Linked DNA regions of Homo sapiens. The protein of the gene in region 3 interacts with the protein of the main gene of each other region in a biochemical or structural test. Each region holds a gene or a part of one and is shown on either strand. Other genes may lie near its edges.

What was found.
Region 1: the proteins of ZBTB17 (region 3) and TMPRSS11A form a complex in vitro, tested with the Homo sapiens proteins (one study listed by BioGRID).
Region 2: the proteins of ZBTB17 (region 3) and ZBTB7C form a complex in vitro, tested with the Homo sapiens proteins (one study listed by BioGRID).

What each region holds. Positions count from the first base shown.
Region 1 is NC_000004.12:67,956,830-67,960,577, reverse strand, and holds part of TMPRSS11A (transmembrane protease serine 11A), read left to right. Parts: intron 1-3,748. UniProt on the Homo sapiens protein: Probable serine protease which may play a role in cellular senescence. Overexpression inhibits cell growth and induce G1 cell cycle arrest.
Region 2 is NC_000018.10:48,407,947-48,411,694, forward strand, and holds the start of ZBTB7C (zinc finger and BTB domain-containing protein 7C), read right to left. Parts: upstream 1,438-3,748; 5' UTR 1,280-1,437; intron 814-1,279; exon of another isoform or gene 412-813; intron 1-411. UniProt on the Homo sapiens protein: May be a tumor suppressor gene.
Region 3 is NC_000001.11:15,974,635-15,978,382, reverse strand, and holds the start of ZBTB17 (zinc finger and BTB domain-containing protein 17), read left to right. Parts: upstream 1-2,281; 5' UTR 2,282-2,400; intron 2,401-3,748. UniProt on the Homo sapiens protein: Transcription factor that can function as an activator or repressor depending on its binding partners, and by targeting negative regulators of cell cycle progression.

The DNA.
Region 1 (3,748 bases), on a different chromosome or scaffold from region 3:
TCATAGTGCTTACTATAAATAAGCATTCAAACTATAATATACATATTACATTATGTTGGTGCATTTAATTATCTCAGCAATCCTATGACTTAGGTAATATTATCTCCATTTTATAGGTGAAGAAAGTAGCCCAATATCACAAGCTAGTAAGTGAAGGAGCTGGAATTTCAACCTGAAAAATAGAGCCAGAGCCTGAGTTTAACGAATAGGGTAACTTGACTTTCTTTCTTTCTTTTTAGTAATTTCTAAGAGAAGAATAACTGTTTTTTAATTTAATTTTTTTAAATTTCAACATTTATTTTCGCTATAGTGGATACATCTGCAGGTTTGTTACATAGATATATTGCACCCAGGTAGTGGGCATAGCACCCAATAGGTAGATTTTCCATCTATGCCCTCCTCCCAACCTTGCCCCTCTAGTAGTCTGCAGTGTCCATTATTCCCGTGTTTATGTCTATGTGTGCTCAATATTTATCTCCCATTTATAGGTGAGAGCATGTGGTATTTGGTTTTCTGTTCCTGCATTAGTTTGCTTAGGATTATGGCCTCCAGCTTCATCTATGTTGCTGCAAAGGACATACATTTTTTACAGCTGCATAGTATTCCATGGTGTATATGTAACACATTTTAAAAAACTGAAATCCACTATTGATGGGCACCTAGGCTGATTACATGTCTTGCTATTGTGAATAGCACAGCAATAAACATGAGTGCATGTATCTTTTTGGTATAATGATTTATTTTTCTTTGGATATATATTCAGTAATGGGATTGCTGTGTTAAATAGTTCTGTCTTAAGTTCTTTGAGAAATCTCCAAACTGCTTTCCATTGTGGCTGAACTAGTTTACATTCCCACCTACAGTGTATAAAAATTCCCTTTTCTCTGCAGCCTTGCCAGCAACTGCTGTTTTTTGACTCTTTAATAGTAGCCATTCTGATGGGTGTGAGATAGTATTTCTCTGACGATTAGTAAGGTTGAGCATTTTTTCATGTTTGTTGTCCACCTGTATGTCTTCTTTTAAGAAGTGTCTGTTCATATCTTTTGCCCACTTTTAATGGGGTTATTTGTTTTTTGTTTGTTGATTTAAGTTTTTCATGCATTCTAGGTATTAGACCTTTGTCAGATGCATGGTTTGTGACTATTTTCTCTGATTCTGTAGATTGTCTGTTTATTCGATAGTTTCTTTTGCTGTGCAGATACTCTTTAGTTTAATTAGGTCTCACTTGTCAATTTTTGTTTTGTTGCAATTGCTTTTGGAATTCTTCACCAAAAATTCTTCACCAGGGTTGATGTTAAGAAGGTTATTTCCTAGGCTTTCTATAATTTGAGTAAAATATTCACAATACTAGTCACTCCATAGTGTTCTGTCTATAGTCAATGAATTGAAATATATGTGCTTATCATTCAGATTTAAAGGCAGATTTGTAACATCCTCTTCTTGATTTGTTTTCCTTCTTTTCCAAATCTCTGCCTGTATTAATCCATTTTCATGCTGCTGATAAAGACATACCTGAGACTGCGCAATTTACAAAAGAAAGAGGTTTAATGCACTCACAGTTCCATGTGGCTGGGGAGGCCTCACAATCATGGCAGAAGGTAAAAGGCATGATTGTCTTTCTTACACAGTGGCAGACAAGAGAAGAGAGCTTCTTATAAAACCATCAGATTTTGTGAGACTTATTCATTATCACAAGAATAGCATAGGAAAGATCTGCCTTCATGATTCAATTACCTCCCATCAGATCCCTCCTACGACACATGGGAATTGTGAGAGCTACAGTTCAAGATGAGATTTGGGTGGGGACACAGCCAAACCATATCATTTTGCCCCTGGCCCCACCCAAATCTCATGTACTCACATTTTAAAACGAATCATGCCTTCCCAACAGTCATCCAAAGTCTTAACTCATTTCAGCACTAACTCTAAAGTCCACAGTCTCATCTGAGACAAGGCAGGTCCCTTCTGCCTATGAGCCTGTAAAATCAAAAGTAAGTTAGTTACTTCCTAGATACAACAGAGGGACAGGCACTGGATAAATAGACCCATTCCAAATCAGAGAAATTGGCCAAAATGAAGGGGCCAAAGGCCCCATACAAGTCTGAAATCCATCAGAGCAGTCAAATCTTAAAGCTCCAAAATGATCTCCTTTGGGTCCTTGTCTCACATGCAGGTCACACTGATGCAAAAGGTGGGTTCCCATGGCCTTGGGCAGCTCCAACCCTGTGGCTTTGCAGGGTATAGCCTCCCTCCCAGCTGCTTTCACAGGCTGGCATTGAGTGTCTATGGCTTTTCCAGGTGCATGGTGAAAGCTGTCGGTGAATCTACCATTCTGGGGTCTGGAGGACGGTGGTTCTCTTCTTACAGCTCCATTAGGCAGCACCCCAGTAGGGACTTTGTGTGGAGGCTCTGACTTGATAGTTCACTTCTGCACTTCCCTAGCAGAGGTTCTCCATGAGTGCACTGCTCTTGTACCAAACTTCTTCCTGGACTTCTAGGCATTTCCATACATCCTCTGAAATCTAGGTGGAGGTTGCCAAACCTCAATTCTTGACTTCTGTGTACCTGCAGGCTCAACCCCACATGGAAGCTGCTAAGGCTTGGGGCTTGCATCTTCTGAAGCCATGACCCAAGCTGTAGCTTGGCCTCTTTTAGTCACAGCTGGAGCAACTGGGACACAAGGCAACAAGTCCCTAGACTGCACACAGCAGAGGGACCCTGGACCTGGCCCATGAAACTATTTTTTCCTCCTAGGTCTCCAGGCCTGTGATGGGAGGAGCTGCCTTGAAGACCTCTGACATGCCCTGGAGACATTTTCCCATTGTCTTGGTGATTAACATTCAGCTCCTCATTACTTATGCAAATTTCTGCAGCCGGCTTGAATTTCTCCTCAGAAAATGGGATTTTCTGTTTTATCGCATTGTCAGGATGCAAATTTTCTGAACTTTTATGCTCTGTCTTCCTTATAAAACTGAATGCCTTAATAGCACCCAAGTAACCTTTTGGATGCTTTGCTGCTTAGAAATTTCTTTCTCCAGATACCCTAAATCATCTCTCTCAAGTTCAAAGTTCCACAAATCTCTAGGGTAGGGCAAAATGCCAACAGCCTCTTTGCTAAAACATAACAAGCGTCACTTTTGCTCTGGTTCCCAACAAGTTCCTTATCTCCATCTGAGACAATCTCAGCCTGGATTTCATGTCTAGATCACTATCAGGTTTTTGGTCAAAGCCATTTAACAAGTCTCTAGGGAGTTCCAAACTTTCCCAAATTTTCCTATCTTCTTCTCAGCCCTCCAAACTGTTCCAACCTCTGCATATTACCCAGTTCCAAAGTTGCTTCTACATGTTCAGGTATCTTTTCAGTGGCACCCCACTCTATTGGTACCAATTTACTGTATTAGTCCGTTTTCACACTGCTGATAAAGACATACCTGAGACTGGGCAATTTACAAAAGAAAGAGGTCTAATGGACTCACAGTTCCATGTGGCTGGGGAGGCCTCAAATCATGGCAGAAGATGAAAGGCATGTCTTACATAGTGGCAGACAAGAGAAGAGAGCTTGTGCAGGGAAACTCCCCCTCATAAAACCATCAGATCTCATGAGACTTATCCATTGTCATGAGAATAGCATGGGAAAGACCCACCTCCATGATTCAATTACCTCCCATTGGGTCTCTCCCACAACACAACATATGGGAATTGTGGGAGGTACAATTCAAGCTAAGATATGGGTGGGGACAGAGCCAAA
Region 2 (3,748 bases), on a different chromosome or scaffold from region 3:
CGCCAATGAAGAACAGGGCCAAGCCACCGGACTTCTCGGAGCCTCTCTCCCAGGTCTGGGCACAGTATATCTTCTTTTAAGGGGTCTTCCCTTCCCACTCCCACTCCTCTTTCTGTCCTAGAAGCACCAGAAACTCCGGCTCTAGCCTTGCGCATGGTCCAGCGAGACTTCCCATACAGGCAGCGCACGCCACCCACCCCCAGCTCCCCTCGGCCTTGCGCCCGCGCCGCGGAAGGTTGGGTACCAGCCTCCACAGCTTTGCAGATTGCAAAGATAACGGGAGCTGCCGCTTCGCTTTTCTTTGGCTCCTCCTGGCCTTCATCCTAGTAAAACCAGACAAGCAACCGGAAAAACAAAGCAGCACAGCGGCCAGAGACAATTCGCTTTCAACGGAGCAAGAGACGTACACACCTTGAGAGAAGACGCACGCAGTTCCCGTGCGTGTCGCTGGGAACAGACCTCGCACTACCCCGCGCGGCGACAGGCACCGGGCCAGGCTCGGCTTCACTTGTCCGAGGCTTGGAGGAACTGTGTGCGTGCGCCCATTTCCCCCAGCTTCCCGACTTGACAGCAGCAAGGATCTTTGAGTCCTGCATGAGCGACACCTCGGGCAAGGACTGTACTCTGCTCAGATCTCATCGAGAGGTGCTGGATCCCAGCCTTTCCAGCTCATTTTCCAATTTTCAAGAAAAGACAGCGCGAAGTGAGACTGCAAAAGTCCCAGGAAAACGTCACTCACCAAAACGCTCCCGCGCCTTCCAGGCAGAAGTGCGGTAAAACTTTTGGCAGAAACCACCTGTGGCTGCCGACGGGCCCGCCCCGCTCGGGCCCGCAGGCGCCGCCGAGCCCCGGGCCGCACGCGCCCGCAGAAGTTCCTTTCCAGCCCCGCGCGCCACTTCGCTCCGGGCCGCGGTGCCAGCCAGGAGGCGCGGCGCCCGCTCGCTGGCTCGCTCTCCGCTGGCTCTCCCCTCCCTCCTTCCCTCCCTCCCTCCTCCCGCCTCCTCCGTTGCATGGCTGCCGCACGGAGCCCCTGAATAGCCACCGCAGCCCCCCGCCTCCTGCCCACCGCGCGGAGGGCGCCCCTGCTCCAGCCGGCGCCCCAAGGCGCGCGGACCGCCGGCCTCCTAGCAACGGCCCCCGCAATCGCTTTCCGGCGCAGCCCAAGCAAAGCCACCCGCCCGCCGCCCCGCGACCTCCCGAACTGCCTCGGCTGCCGAGGTGCTGTGGAGATCGCGACCCCGGCAGCCGGCGCCCGAGCCCGGCGCGCGAAGCCGCTCACCTCCGCGCGCCGCCGGCCCTGCGCGCCTCCCGCACTTGGCTCCGGGACGCAGTCCTGGCGTCCTCCTTCGCCGCCGGTGTCCGCCGGTCCCTGCGCGCCCGAGCCTCGCCGGCCGCGCCGCTGTCAGAGTCTCGTGGCGGGGCTGCGCCGGCGGGTATGGAGCTGAGCGGCGGCAGCGGGCGAGCGGGCAGCTCCTCCCTCCCCGCGCCGCGCCTCCGCCCTCCCCGCGCCCCGCCTCCCGCGCCGCGGCTGTCAGCCCCGCGCCCCGCGCCCCGCGCCCGCGCCGCCGGCTCGGGGGGCGCACAGGGCTAAAGGGCCCGGATGTGTGCGGTCGCCTGTCGCTCGCGCCCGCCCCCTCCCCGCCGCGCGGCACATGCACTTGCTGCGCCGCAGCCCCCGCCCGGCTCCGCTAATTTCTATTTTGACAGTAACTGTGGCGAGTGGGCGGCGCGGCGGGGGGCGCCCGGGACTGGCGGAGGCTGCGGGCGGGAGTCAGGACCCGACGCGGAGGCGGAGTGGGGGGGCCGGGCACCGCCACCAACCGCTCGGGGCTCCGCGTCTTTTCTCTTTCTTTCCTTTTTTCTCTCTGCCTCCTCCAGGATTTAAAGGGACAGCCCCGGCAGAGGCGAGGGGGCCAGGCGGCCGCCGTTTCTCCGGTCTCCTGACGCCCTCTGCGGCCCGGCCGGACCCGCCCGCACCCCCAGCGCAGGCTTGGGACCGCCGGGTATTTTTAGGTCCACACCCGACCCGGGGCAGCGGTGCGGCAGAGATGGGCTCTGCCGACCCGGGGCAGCGGTGCGGCAGAGATGGGCTCTGCCGCCCCGGCGCACGGCTATTTTTACAGAGTCCGATGGGGGAGGAAATAAAACAACTCGGCAACTGCTTTTCTACCCGAAAGTCGGGAGCAAGGAGTGGGGGCGAGAAGTTAAGTTTCCCAAATGCTCTCGGCACTCCAGCGAGCGCACCAAGACGCCTAGCCAGCACCTGAAACCGCAAGCTTGCCGCACCCCGGGGCGCCGAATCTCAGCGGGCAATCGCGCTCGGCGGCGCTGCGGCCCGGAGTCCCCACCCCTCTGGAGCCTTGGGCCCCGCACTCCGCACCCCACACGCCGGGGAGCAGCCGCTGGCCGCCCGTCACTCCCCGGGTCGGCCTGGAAGGCGGCCTTCCGAAGCGTCCAATCACCGCGCAACAATGCCAACGGGCGGGCCCGGGGAGGGCTTGTCCCCGCCCCGTCCCGCCGGGCCCCGCCCCCTCGGAGTCTGTCGGGGCAGGAGAATCTCGCTGGGACGCCGAGTGCTCAGCGGTGCTGGAAGCCACGAAGGGCCAGTGCGAGGGGAGGAGGAAGGGTCCTGGCCCTGGAGAGGGCGTGAGCGTTCTCGGGCGAGGCGACACTTGGGCAGATGTTCCCTCCAGCTACGGGCCGGGGAAACTCGAGCTGGCTTTGCCTCCTACCTTTTTGCAGTCCACCCCTCTGCGCTCCAGACAGACATAGGAACCCTCGCCCTCCTTGGTAGTACATCGGAGGCAGCACCCTCGCACGTCAGCGGGTCCTCTCCGGGGCTCCTCCCTCAGAAGCGGGAAAGTTTGTCGTCCTCAAACTCCTACCCGGCTGCGCTTATCTGAGGCGCACCTGGCGCCCAGGAGAGGCGAGATGGCGAATCCCGGCCGCCTAGTGCCCATTCTGGCTACGGATTAATAAAAGGGCAGTGGGGCTGCTGCTGTGTCCTTTAATGCTGAAGACACTGGATGACATTTTTTACAGAATTCACAAAAATAAGTTTGTGAACCTTTGGTGCCTCTTCCTAATATCACTTATTGGGATTTTTTTTTAAACCATTTCATTCATTCGTGTAATAAACGCACATTGCAAGATAGTACGTTGGGAGTAGTGAAAACAAGGGAAAACGGGCTCTGGAATAGGATGTAAGAGTGGAAAACTAGATATGAATAGAGGGATCTGAAACGTAGGGTTTGGGTACAATTATGTCACGTTTAATTTGCCAAAGAGATCTGGTTTTTCCTACTAAGTAAATTTCACCAAATGAACAGTTTGGACAGCCATCTTATCCAAACTATTCAAATGCACATGTAAATCTAGGATAGTCTATCGTGGAACCTAAGGTATGTTCAGGCTCAGGATGTCAGATTTCCAAGTTGCTAAAGCTTCCAGAATGGCAAAATAATATATCTCGCTTTCAGCAGCTGTGGCAGCCACTGCCCTCTCATATTAGGTTTGTCTCTCTGTTAAATTAAGTTGCCTGTCTTGCTTCCCTTCATTAAAGGGTTTTCAGTTACTTGGAATGCTGCTGACCCAGCTGATATGGCCCCGCTTCTAAGCCATAAGTCTGGCTGCGCCTCATGCCAAGCATGCGGATGCATTTAGAGAGCACCTAGAGGATCCCAGCCCTGCAAATGCCCAGACACCTGCAGGAAATAGAAATGTAGTTCTGGGGGTGAGGGCAGCTACA
Region 3 (3,748 bases):
ATGTTCCTTAAAGAACTAAAAGTAAATCTGCCATTAGATCCAGCAATCCCACTAGCGGGTATCTACAGAGAGGAAAATAAGTCATTATATGAAAAATACACTTCCACACGCATGTTTGTAGCAGCACAGTTCACAATTGCAAACATATAGAACCATCTCAAATGCCCATCAATGCACGAGTGGATAAAGAAAATGTGGTATATATATATAACATGGAATACTACTCAGCCATAAAAAGGAATGAAATAATGGCATTTGCAGCAACATGGATGGAGCTAGAGACCATTATTCTAAATGAAGTAACTCAGGAATGGAAAACCAAATATCATATGCTCTCACTTTTAGGTGGGAGCTAAGCTATGAGGACGCAAAGGCATAAGAATGACACAATGGACTTTGGGAACTCAGGGGGAAAGGTGGGAGGGGTGAGGGATAAAAGACTACACTTTGGGTTGGCTGGGCGCAGTGGCTCACGCCTGCAATCCCAGCACTTTGGGAGGCCGAGGCGGGCGGATCACGAGGTCAGGACATCCAGACCATCCTGGCTAACACGGTGAAACCCCGTCTCTACTAAAAATACAAAAAATTAGCCGGGCATGGTGGCGGGCGCCTGTAGTCCCAGCTACTCGGGAGGCTGAGTCAGGAGAATGGCGTGAACCTGGGAGGCGGAACTTGCAGTGAGCCCAGATGGCGCCACTGCACTCCAGCCTGGGCAACAGAGCAAGACTCCATCTCAAAAAAAAAAAAAAAAAAAAAAAAAGACTACACCTTGGGTAGAATGTACACTGTTCAGGTCATGGGTCCCCCAAAATCACAGAAATCATCACTAAAGAACTTATCCATGTAACCAAACACCATGTGTTCCCCAAAAACTACTGAAATAAAAATTAAAAATATAGTTAAAAAGAACGGGTGAAGTTAGCCAGTTGTGGGTGCACATGCCTGTAGTCTCAGCTACTGGGGAGGTTGAAATGGGATGCTTAAGCCTAGGGGTTTCAGTCCAGCCGGGCAACATAGCGAGACCCCATCTAAAAAAAAAAAAAAGAAAGAAAAGAAAGACGGCCGGGCACGGCGGCTCACGCCTGTAATCCCAGCACTTTGGGAGGCTGAGGCAGGTGGATCACGAGGTCAGAAGATCGAGACCATCCTGGCTAACATGGTGAAACCCCGTCTCTACTAAAAATACAAAAAATTAGCCAGGTGTTGTGGCGGGCGCCTGTAGTCCCAGCTACTCTGGAGGCTGAGACAGGAGAATGGCGTGAACCCGGGAGGCGGAGCTTGCAGTGAACCGAGACAGCGCCACTGCACTCCAGCCTGGAAGACAGAGTGAGACTCTGTCTCCAAAAAAAAAAAAAAAACCTAAAGACAAGAAGGGGTGAAGTCAACTGCTGGGCTTTTTTGTTTCTCTAGCCATTGTGAAGACAGGAGTGAGTTGCCAGATTGGCATATGTTGCATCCCACTGAAGGCTAGTGGACATGAATCTCTAGGGAACAGTCTCCCCACTGCATACTTTCTTCAGCTGTGCTTGGCTGTTTGGGAGCTAACAAAGAGAAAAGGTGCATTTGGATTCACACAGCGTTGGTATTCTTACCAAATCCATGTGACAAAAAGGCAAGGGGGCAAAAGAGCTTACAGTAGTGGCAAGAGTGTTGTTAAAATTATAGATTATGGAAAATATGCAGGCCTAGAAGTAAACAAAGGAGAAAGCCCTCAGACTGTGAGAAAGTGGAGAAGTCAGTGGCCTAGAGCTACCAAAAAGGTAGAAGAGGGGCCACGGAGGGGCCATGCAAGTCTGCAGACACTTTTGTTTTCAGACACCTTTATTCACGTCCAAGACAATCAGGGAAGGGGATAATGTTCGGTTTAGAAGGTAGAAAAACACAACTGGGATCTGCAGCTTTGAAGCCACAAGTAGATTCATATCTCCGGTCCACCACTTACAAGATATGTGACCATGGACATTGATTTACACTTTTTGAGTCTGTTTTCCCTTTTTTAAAATTAGGAGAATAATACTATCTTATAATTGGTGTGAGGATTTAAAGAGATAATGCATGTAAAGCGCTTAACACAGTGCCTGGCACACAGTAAGAGCTGAACACATGATGTTACTGTTATATTTGGAAGAGAAACCAAGGCAGGGGTACAATGAGGACAACTCTGAGCGCCGAAGTACTGTAAGGTGGAACTTTTGGATAGCTAGGCGCATGCGTCTGTCTATGGGCGCTCTCCTAGCGAGGACGCTGCGCATGCGCCGGAAGTTGCAGCCGGGAAGCCTGCGAGGTCGGTTCCGCCCGACTCTAACATGGCGGCGCCCTTTGTCTGCTCTGGAGTGCCGTCCCCGGCCTTCTCGCGGCCGTGATGCACCTCCCTCTGCGGTGGGGTCCGGGACATGGCAGGTGAGTGTCAACAATCGCCCGGGGCCGGGGAAGTCCCGGGAGCCGGGGCGGAGGCGGCGGAGGATGGGGCGCGGTGGGACGCCGGTGACGGTTGTGTGGGGGAGGGGAGGGAAGTGGAATGGGACGCCAACCGGGGCTGAGGGGACACCGCTGGGCGGGAGATTGTGGGGTGGCGGGGCGGGGGGCGTCGCCGGGCGTGCTGGCGGGGAGTGGGCGGCCAGGCGACCGCCCGGGCGAGGGGGCGCGTGTCACCTCCCGGGCTGGATGACACCCCAGCTGGTAGCATCTCCGCCCCCGCCGCACGGCTGTCACCGCCCCTTGACCCCGCGCGCTGTCGAGGGTGGGCGTTCTGCGGCCGCGAGGGAGCGCAGTGCCGGGGCAGCTCCTGTCGGCCGGCCGGGGCGGGAGGGAGCGGGGCTGCCCGGGCCTAGGAGGAGCTGACAGAGGAGGCCGACGCTGTCCCTGTATAAAAGCATTTCATTCATTCATTCGTACTGCGGACGGTGGTTCAGCACCTGATAGATGGTGAAGCTAGAGCGAGTGATGCGGGCGGACTCGATCCTCCAGGATCCTCGATCCTGGAGTTAGGAGTGTGAACCGTGGAGCCCAGCAGCGGGGTTTGAATCCCCATTCCCTGCTGTGACCTTAGGCACTTTTGGCTTTTTCTCTCTGCCTGGGTTTATTCATCCTTTAAGCAGAGATGATAATAAAATCAGCCTCCTAAGATTGTAATAAAGGGGAAATGAGGCTCCTAGAACACTTATGGGTACAAAGTAAATGCTGTGTGTTTGTTGCTGTTATTAATTGTATCACCATTGTCACCCAGAGCTCAGAGACCCATGTGGGAGACATACAGGTAAATCAGCAATTCTGATACTGCTGCGAGGGCAGAAAGCCCTCCTTCCTCTGAAGCACGGAGTAGAGACACATCACTCAGCCTAGGGGGAATCCCGGGAGGCTTCTGTCCCCCAGAAAGCTAAGATCTAAGGGAAGCTCAGCGGAGTGAGGCAGGAAAACGGGTATTCCCAGTTAAGGGTGTAGTTTGTGAGAAAACTCATCTTCGTAGAGAGAGGAGAGAGAGATCAGGCTAAATAAAGAAGCAGACTGGGCCGGGCTCGTTGTCTCACGCTTGTAATCTCAGCACTTTGGGAGGCCCAGGCGGGCAGATCACTTGAGGTCAGGAGTTCGAGACCAGCCTGGCCAATATGGTGAAACCCCCGTCTCTACTAAAAATACAAAAATTAGCCGGTCGTGCTTGCGCGCGCCTGTAGTCCCAGCTGCTCAGGAGGCTGAGGTATGAGAATCGCTCGAACGCAGGAGGCGGAGGTTGCAGTGAGCCGAAACGGCG